Linked DNA regions of Homo sapiens. The protein of the gene in region 1 purifies or fractionates together with the protein of each later gene. This does not show direct contact. Each region holds a gene or a part of one and is shown in the gene's direction. Other genes may lie near its edges.

Evidence for each region.
Region 2: the proteins of NAA30 (region 1) and ATP12A purify together in Homo sapiens (affinity purification with mass spectrometry; one large-scale study listed by BioGRID and IntAct). This does not show direct contact.

The regions. Positions count from the first base shown.
Region 1 is NC_000014.9:57,396,948-57,400,599, forward strand, and holds part of NAA30 (N-alpha-acetyltransferase 30), read left to right. Parts: intron 1-2,880; coding exon 2,881-2,936; intron 2,937-3,652. UniProt on the Homo sapiens protein: Catalytic subunit of the N-terminal acetyltransferase C (NatC) complex. Catalyzes acetylation of the N-terminal methionine residues of peptides beginning with Met-Leu-Ala and Met-Leu-Gly.
Region 2 is NC_000013.11:24,704,355-24,708,006, forward strand, and holds part of ATP12A (potassium-transporting ATPase alpha chain 2), read left to right. Parts: intron 1-1,958; coding exon 1,959-2,109; intron 2,110-2,668; coding exon 2,669-2,837; intron 2,838-2,924; coding exon 2,925-3,079; intron 3,080-3,652. UniProt on the Homo sapiens protein: The catalytic subunit of a H(+)/K(+) ATPase and/or Na(+)/K(+) ATPase pump which transports K(+) ions in exchange for Na(+) and/or H(+) ions across the apical membrane of epithelial cells.

The DNA.
Region 1 (3,652 bases):
CTTAAATGTAAGTATGTAGAAATGAAAGAAACTAAGGGAAGAAAATTAAGGCGGGTTTTAATTTTTAATTTCAAAATGGTATTTTTAAAAAGTTCTTAAAATGAATTTTTTCTTTATTAATGTTTTGTTTGACAGTTTTTCGTTTTAACAAGTAGCCGATCATCAGCTTTCACCTGCAGATTTTTTTAATCACATTCAAAATGCTTTGCATTATGCTAAGTACCACAAGAAATACTGCAATTTATAATTACATTATGATGGTCCTTCATGCCAGCCTTCAAGCACTTGTCTGTATTTGGGTTAAGTGGACCTCAATCAAGCCAAAATTATGGACAAATTGTTACCATTACTTGGTGCTAGTCATCAACTATATATTGCAATTCAGGAAAGATCAGGAGATGAGAATTGATTGTTTCTTGTAATTCCCAAACTTAATTTTTTGTTGGGTCTACTTTTCCTGACATGTTTAGTTAATCTTAACACTCATGATTTATAATGATCATTAGAATCATGTGGGTGGTTTAAAAACATGTATTTGGGCCCCTCACCCTGAGACTCTTGTTTGTCTTGTCAGAGGTGGGGCTGAAGCTTCCCTAGGTGACTGTGATGTAAGCCTGATTAAGAACCACTCTTCTATGGCTGGGTTAGATAACTTTTGTCATTTAAATAACGCCATAAAACTCAATAGGCCACCAGGTGCCGGGTGCGGTGGCTCACGCCTATAATCCCAGCATTTTGGGAGGCCAAGGCAGGTGAGTCACTAGGTCAGGAGTTCAAGACCAGCCTGGGCAAGATGGCGAAACCCTGTCTCTACTAAAAATACAAAAATTAGCTGGGAGTGGTGGTGGGCACCTGTCATCCCAGCTACTCAGGAGGCTGAGGCAGGAGAATTGATTGAACCTGGGAGGTGGAGGTTGCAGTGAGCGTGCCACTGCACTCTAGCCTGGGTGACAGAGCAAGACTCCGTTTCAAAAAACCACTCTTCTATTCTCTAGGACCTAGTGGCTCTTTGTTCACAGTGGAGAATTGGGTAGACAAGCATTTGTCTAAGCATGTCAAATTTTGTGATGTGCTTTAGCTGAGTATTCATAAAAAAAAGTTTAATACCTGTACCAGTATTTAATCATTAGTTTTTTCACTTTCATGTTTTTTAAAAACTATTAAGTGTTATTGTCCAACCTAAGACTCACACACGGTCCTAGGTATCATGAGAAGTAACTATAAATAGGTTTACTTAATATGTTAGGTTTAGCCAACTTTATTGCAGTGTTACAGCTTTCCACTAAGATTTTTAATGAATTGGGCTTGTTTTATGGACTAAGTTTGAGCCTTTGATGCATTAAAAAGCACTGATAAGGACTCATGATAAATTATAGCCAATTGTTTGGCTAGTTTGGAGGGCAGAAACCAGTGGCTTTTGGGTTGCATCCTGGCCTTCAGACATACTTTGTTTGGGCCATAAAATGCGTGCATACTTGTATGCATGGCTTGAAAATTAAGAGTTTTTAATTTAATTTTATTATTTTTTGAGACAGAGCTTCGCTGTATTGCCCAGGCTGGAGTGCAGTGGTGTGATCCCGGCTCACTGCAACCTCTAGCACCTAGATTCAAGCAATTCTTGTGCCTCAGCCTCCCAAGCACCTGGGACTACAGGCACACACCACCACACCCAGCTGATTTATTTTTTTTATTATTATTTTTTTTTGAGATAGTCTCACTCTGTCGCCCAGGTTGGAGCGCAGTGGCATGATCTCGACTCACTGCAACCTCCGCCTCCTGTGTTCAAGTGATTTTCCTGCCTCCGCCTCCCAAGTAGCTGGGATTACAGGCACCCTCCACCTGTAATGCCTGGCTAATTTTTTATTTTTTAGTAGAGATGGGGTTTCGTCATGTTGGCCAGGCTGGTCTTGAACTCCTGACCTCCGGTGATCCGCCCACCTTGGCCTCCCAAAGTGCTGGGATTATAGGCTGAGCCACTGCACCCAGCCAGTTTTTTGTATTTTTAGTAGAGATGGGGTTTTGCCATGACCTCAGCCTCCAAAATGCTGGGATTACAGGCGTGAGCCACCACGCCTGGCCAATTTTTTGTATTTTTAATAGAGACGGGGTTTCACCATGTTGGCCAGGCTGGTCTTGAACTCTTGGCCTCAAGTGATCCACCTGCCTTGGCTTCCCAAAGTGCTGGGATTACAGGCGTGAACCACTGCGCCCAGCCTAAGAGTTTTTAAATAAAATTTGTCTGTCTGCTCTTAAAATCAGATTTGGCAAATTTTTTCCCTTTTAATATACCAATTATATTTGACCCTAAACTAGGATACATTTTGCTAGACATGTACAGACACACCACTGACATCATTGGGAGTGCCAGACTTGCCAGACTTCATCGTGCTCACTGTAAAGTTTATAGGAACCTACTGTGGGTAACAGCAGTTCTGATGAGGTTGTCTTGTCCCTTGTGTCCAGGGGAGTTTGAAGGATCTTTGGTGAGATCAGCTTGGGTTATGCAGTAAGTTCTGGCCAACTCACGGGGAGTTCCTGCGTTGTTCTGGCCATACCATATCTTGTCTTTTTCTCTTTCGCTTTCCTACTGCTTTCAAACACAATAGAACAAACTCCTGCTTGTGGCAAATAATTATGTCTGAGAAAAAGGAGTATATTGGGAGATAGGTCTTTCAAGAGGAAACATACTGTTATGTATAGGTTCTGTTGGCTTCTCTTAGCTTATAGCTAAAATTTTTCCCATTTAATTTGAGGTAATCCGTGTATCTGGATTCAAGATAGAAACTAGCATTTGACATTTCTGTGCTTACGAATATTATAATTTAGGTTATCTTTAAGAAATACATTTTTCCTTCATTAATACTCAGATCTATATTCTAGGTACTAACTTGGTTAAGAAAGCTATATATGCCATGGTTGAGGGAGACTGTGATGAGGTAAGTCTTTAAAAATGTTTAATATTTTTTATCTGGGCATTATTCTTTCTGGGTATTTTTAATAAATATTTTATAATTTATTGCAGATTTCATTGCAGTGTTACTATACAAATGCAGCTTGTGGGGAAAATTATATTCCATTTAAAAACACATGAATTTTTGACCTAGAACAAATTTTAAAATGGAGCTAAAATTTCTTCAAAATGTGTGGGGGGAATCTTAGACATTTTCAGTACACAATTTTGGTATTCAGAGGCTTTATCATCAGTTATTTAAGGTAGCTCTTATTACAGACTCTGTTATAATTTGCTTACATATTGGCCTTAGTTTCTGACAATGGGAAACTGTCAGTCTATATGGAGGACATTTCACACTTGAAAATAATCTTTTCAGAATTAAATAATGACAATGTTGGCTAGGGGGAAGACAACCACTTTTAAAGAGTAGAGCTATCTGCGCATTAACATAAGAGCATTTTCTCTCTTCAGCTTGTTTGTAAGGTCTGATGGCAGATATTTCTTTGTATCCTACTGCACGGTGTTTCTACATATAGTAGGTGCATGATAAATATTGGTGATGATTGGGAATGTTAACATTTACTGTTGCACAGTGTGGAAGGGAACAAGTATAAACTAGAGAAGTATAGATGTCTTTAACATAGCAGTGGTGACTAAGGAGGAGCAAAGTTGTACTAGTACTTTTATGAGTAATAGAAG
Region 2 (3,652 bases), on another chromosome or scaffold:
CAATTGCTTCTTTTTTATATTTGCCCTTCCTTCCCTACTTAGGAAGATTTGTTTGGCCTTCCATTCAAGGATCTTTTGTGGTCTTTGTCTAGTTTTAGCCTGGTGATGGCCATGTGCTGGTGACGTGCACACGACGGTCCTGCCCTTAGCCTCCTCCTGTGCTCCTGTTCAGTATAGGTGGCACATTTCTTCCTATAAACCTGGACTGCTTTGCCAATTTGCTGGCCCGTATAGTGTCTTTGTGCAACCTCAACTTCCTCATCCTTTCAGATGGGCATGGATGGAACTGTGCTTGTAGCAGACTCCAGAATGTGCTTCTGTCTCAGCTCTTTGGAACGAGAGAAAGACATAATCTTCCTACGAATGTGGGAAGGTGCATTGAAATGACTTTTATGATTCTTGCCTCAGTCAAAAGTCACAAAGGGACTGCACTTCCTCTTGGTCACTGCCACTCTGCTCATGGCCACAAAAGGGAAGAGTGGATTACACATTTGTATACAAATCACCACACTGAGTGAAGTGGATGCTTTTGTGAATGTTTTCAGTTATTCACTTCATCAGCTCTAGTTTCATGACCATATAAAAATTGCATCTTAGCAGGTGTAAGGGGAAAGGAAACACCCCTTCTTTCTTCTCTTACTTTCTTTTGTTTTGTTTTGTTTTGTTTTTTTGCCAGCGGTTAAGGAGACCTGTAGTTTGAGTCAAGTGCTAGAATTCCAGTATTTAGCACCAAGAGGTAAAACAGACCTAGAAAGCTCAAAACTTGCAAATTGTAAAGAAAAAGACCTGCAGCAGTTTGTACCTACATTGTTTAAGCTGAGATTTGAAGGCTGAAATGTAGTGTTAGCCACGAGAAGCTGAGGTGAGAGATGCCCATTCCTGGTCAGGGAGCGAGACCCGTGAAGGCCTTAGGGTACAGGGGATGGAGGATGTCAGAACTGAGAGCATCCAGCGGGCAGGAGGGAGAGCCCAAGGTGAGGCGAAGCTTGACAACGCAGGCCCCACCTGGGCTCGCTGGCTAAAGTTAGGGATTCCGGGGTCTGCTCCAAGCACGGTGGAAAGCCCCTGAAGAGTTTTAGCAGGGGACTGGCTCAGGCAGCTCTGCATAATCAATAGGCCCTAGAACCTTACTTTTATAGTCAGCAGGCAATAGCGCTGCTCAAAGACTTCAGTAAACTTCTGCCTACGTAGCACATTGCACAAAGATGACACTCTGTAAATCTGAAATACCCAACGGCAAGTAATTATTACCCCTTGTTTGGCCATAAAAGAATTCTAGGACCCAAAACATATGAACAGGCAGTTTGGGGGTTTTATTTTTATTTTTGTTTTTGAGACAGGGTCTCACTTTGTCACCCAGGCTTGAGTGTAGTGGCATGATCATGGCTCACTGCAGCCTCAACCCCCCAGGCTCAAGCAATCCTCCTGCCTCAGCCTGCTGAGTAGCTGGGACCACAGGCACATGCCACCATACCTGGCTAATTTTTTAAAATTTTTTGTAGAGACAGGGGCTCTCACTATGTTGCCCAGGCTGGTCTTGAACTCTTGGCCTCAAGTGATCCTCCTACTCAGCCTCCCACAGTGCTGGGATTACAGGCATGAGCCACTGCGTTTGGCCATGAATGGGCAGTTTTTTAACTTCCTTTTACTTCTGAAGTAAAGCGTTGCTCTAGGAAGTACCACTCTCACCTGTTCTAGTAGGGATAAGGCTACCTGGTTTTTTATTCCTATTGTTATATGGTACCAAGAAATGGTGTTATATTTTAGCCTCAGTTTGCCCTCTTGAAATGGAGACTAAAGTGTTCCCAGGACTCCTGTTACCTCACTAGAGCATTAGGTATCAAGGACACTGGGTTCCAGGTCAAGTCAGAGAGGCTTCAGCCAGCATCCTGCCTGGAACAGTGTTTCAACCTAAGATCTGCCCTTGGGCCTCACCCAGTTTCTTCTGGCCCTTCTAGGGATGCCAAGGCCGCTGTGGTGACTGGCATGGAGCTGAAGGACATGAGCTCAGAACAGCTGGATGAGATCTTAGCCAACTACCAGGAGATTGTCTTTGCCCGGACATCCCCCCAGCAGAAGCTGATCATTGTGGAGGGCTGTCAGAGGCAGGTGGGTGGACAGCAGTGTCCAGAGGACTGACAGGCCCATCACTGTCCATGGGCAAGTGCAGAGGTCTGGATCTCACATCAGGCTGTGGTGCCTTTGAAACTTCAAGAGAGAGTTCTTGGCTCATCCCCATCACCTGACCTCTCCAACCTCTCAGGTGGGCTGGCCCCTGTCCTCCTTTGAGACCCCCACCACATGTTCCCCGAAAGGCTCACCCCAGCTCTCTGCATTTTGTCATGAGAGCCCGGTGAAGCATTTGCCACTGTGGTAGTTGTGAGTAAAGAGAGATTTAAAATGCAAAGATTTAAAACAAAAAATGTGAAGACATAAGATACAAGACACCTGCGCATTAGGTTTTCCTCATTTGCACGTATCTTGTTTGGAGACCCTTGTTCCTGCTTCTAAGATTTCTCATCTTTATCTTTTCCCCTAAATGGGCCTTTCCGTTCAGCTATAATCATCCTCGCAACCTCAAGAGAAAGGGAAGTCTTGTTGCTCTTGCCAGGCCTGCAACCCACTGGGCCTGCTCACTCCCACTTTCTCCCTGGGTCCCCCGCCATAGGATGCTGTTGTTGCTGTGACCGGGGATGGAGTTAATGACTCTCCGGCTCTAAAGAAGGCAGACATTGGGATTGCCATGGGGATAGCAGGTTCTGATGCAGCCAAAAATGCAGCCGACATGGTCTTGCTGGACGACAACTTCGCATCCATCGTCACAGGGGTGGAGGAAGGTGAGTGAGTCTCAGGGGGTCTTCCCAAGGGCCAGGGTGGTCTGGGGGACTAGAAGTAAGTTCTGAAGGAGAAACCTCTCTGCCTAGGTCGCCTGATCTTTGACAACCTCAAGAAGACTATTGCTTATTCCCTGACCAAGAACATTGCCGAGCTGTGCCCCTTTCTGATCTACATCATTGTCGGGCTCCCCCTGCCCATTGGCACCATCACCATTCTGTTCATTGACTTGGGGACAGACATTGTAAGTGACACTGAAGGGAACAGGCTGTGATGCCTGCCCCAGGGGAGGTCAAGTTCAGGGTCGCTACCTTCAAGGGCCGGGGATGGACTAACTCAAGGCTTCTCAGCTTCCATGTGATGGGGCCTGTAGCTCTGCATTTCTCACAGGTTCTCAGGTGGTGCCCATTCTACCAGTCCACATGCCACACCTCAAAGCAAGGGACCAGAGGCATCTGCCAAATGTTTGGAAATTAAAAACACTCTATAGTGAGCTTTTTTTTCTTGAGACAGAGTTTCACTCCCATCACCTAGGCTAGAGTGCAGTGGTGCTATCTTGCCTCACTGCAACCTCCGCCTCCCAGGCTCAAGTGATTCTTCCACCTCAGCCTCCCAAGTAGTTGGGACTACAGGCTTGTGCCACCACACCTGGCTAATTTTTGTATTTTTAGTAGAGATGGGGTTTCCTGGCCTCAAGTGATCCACCTGCCTCGGCCTCCCAAAGTGCTGGGATTACAGGCATGAGTCACTGCACCTGAGCTATAGCAAGCTTTTCAAGACATGAGTCTTCATCCTCAAAAAAAAAAAAGAAATGCCA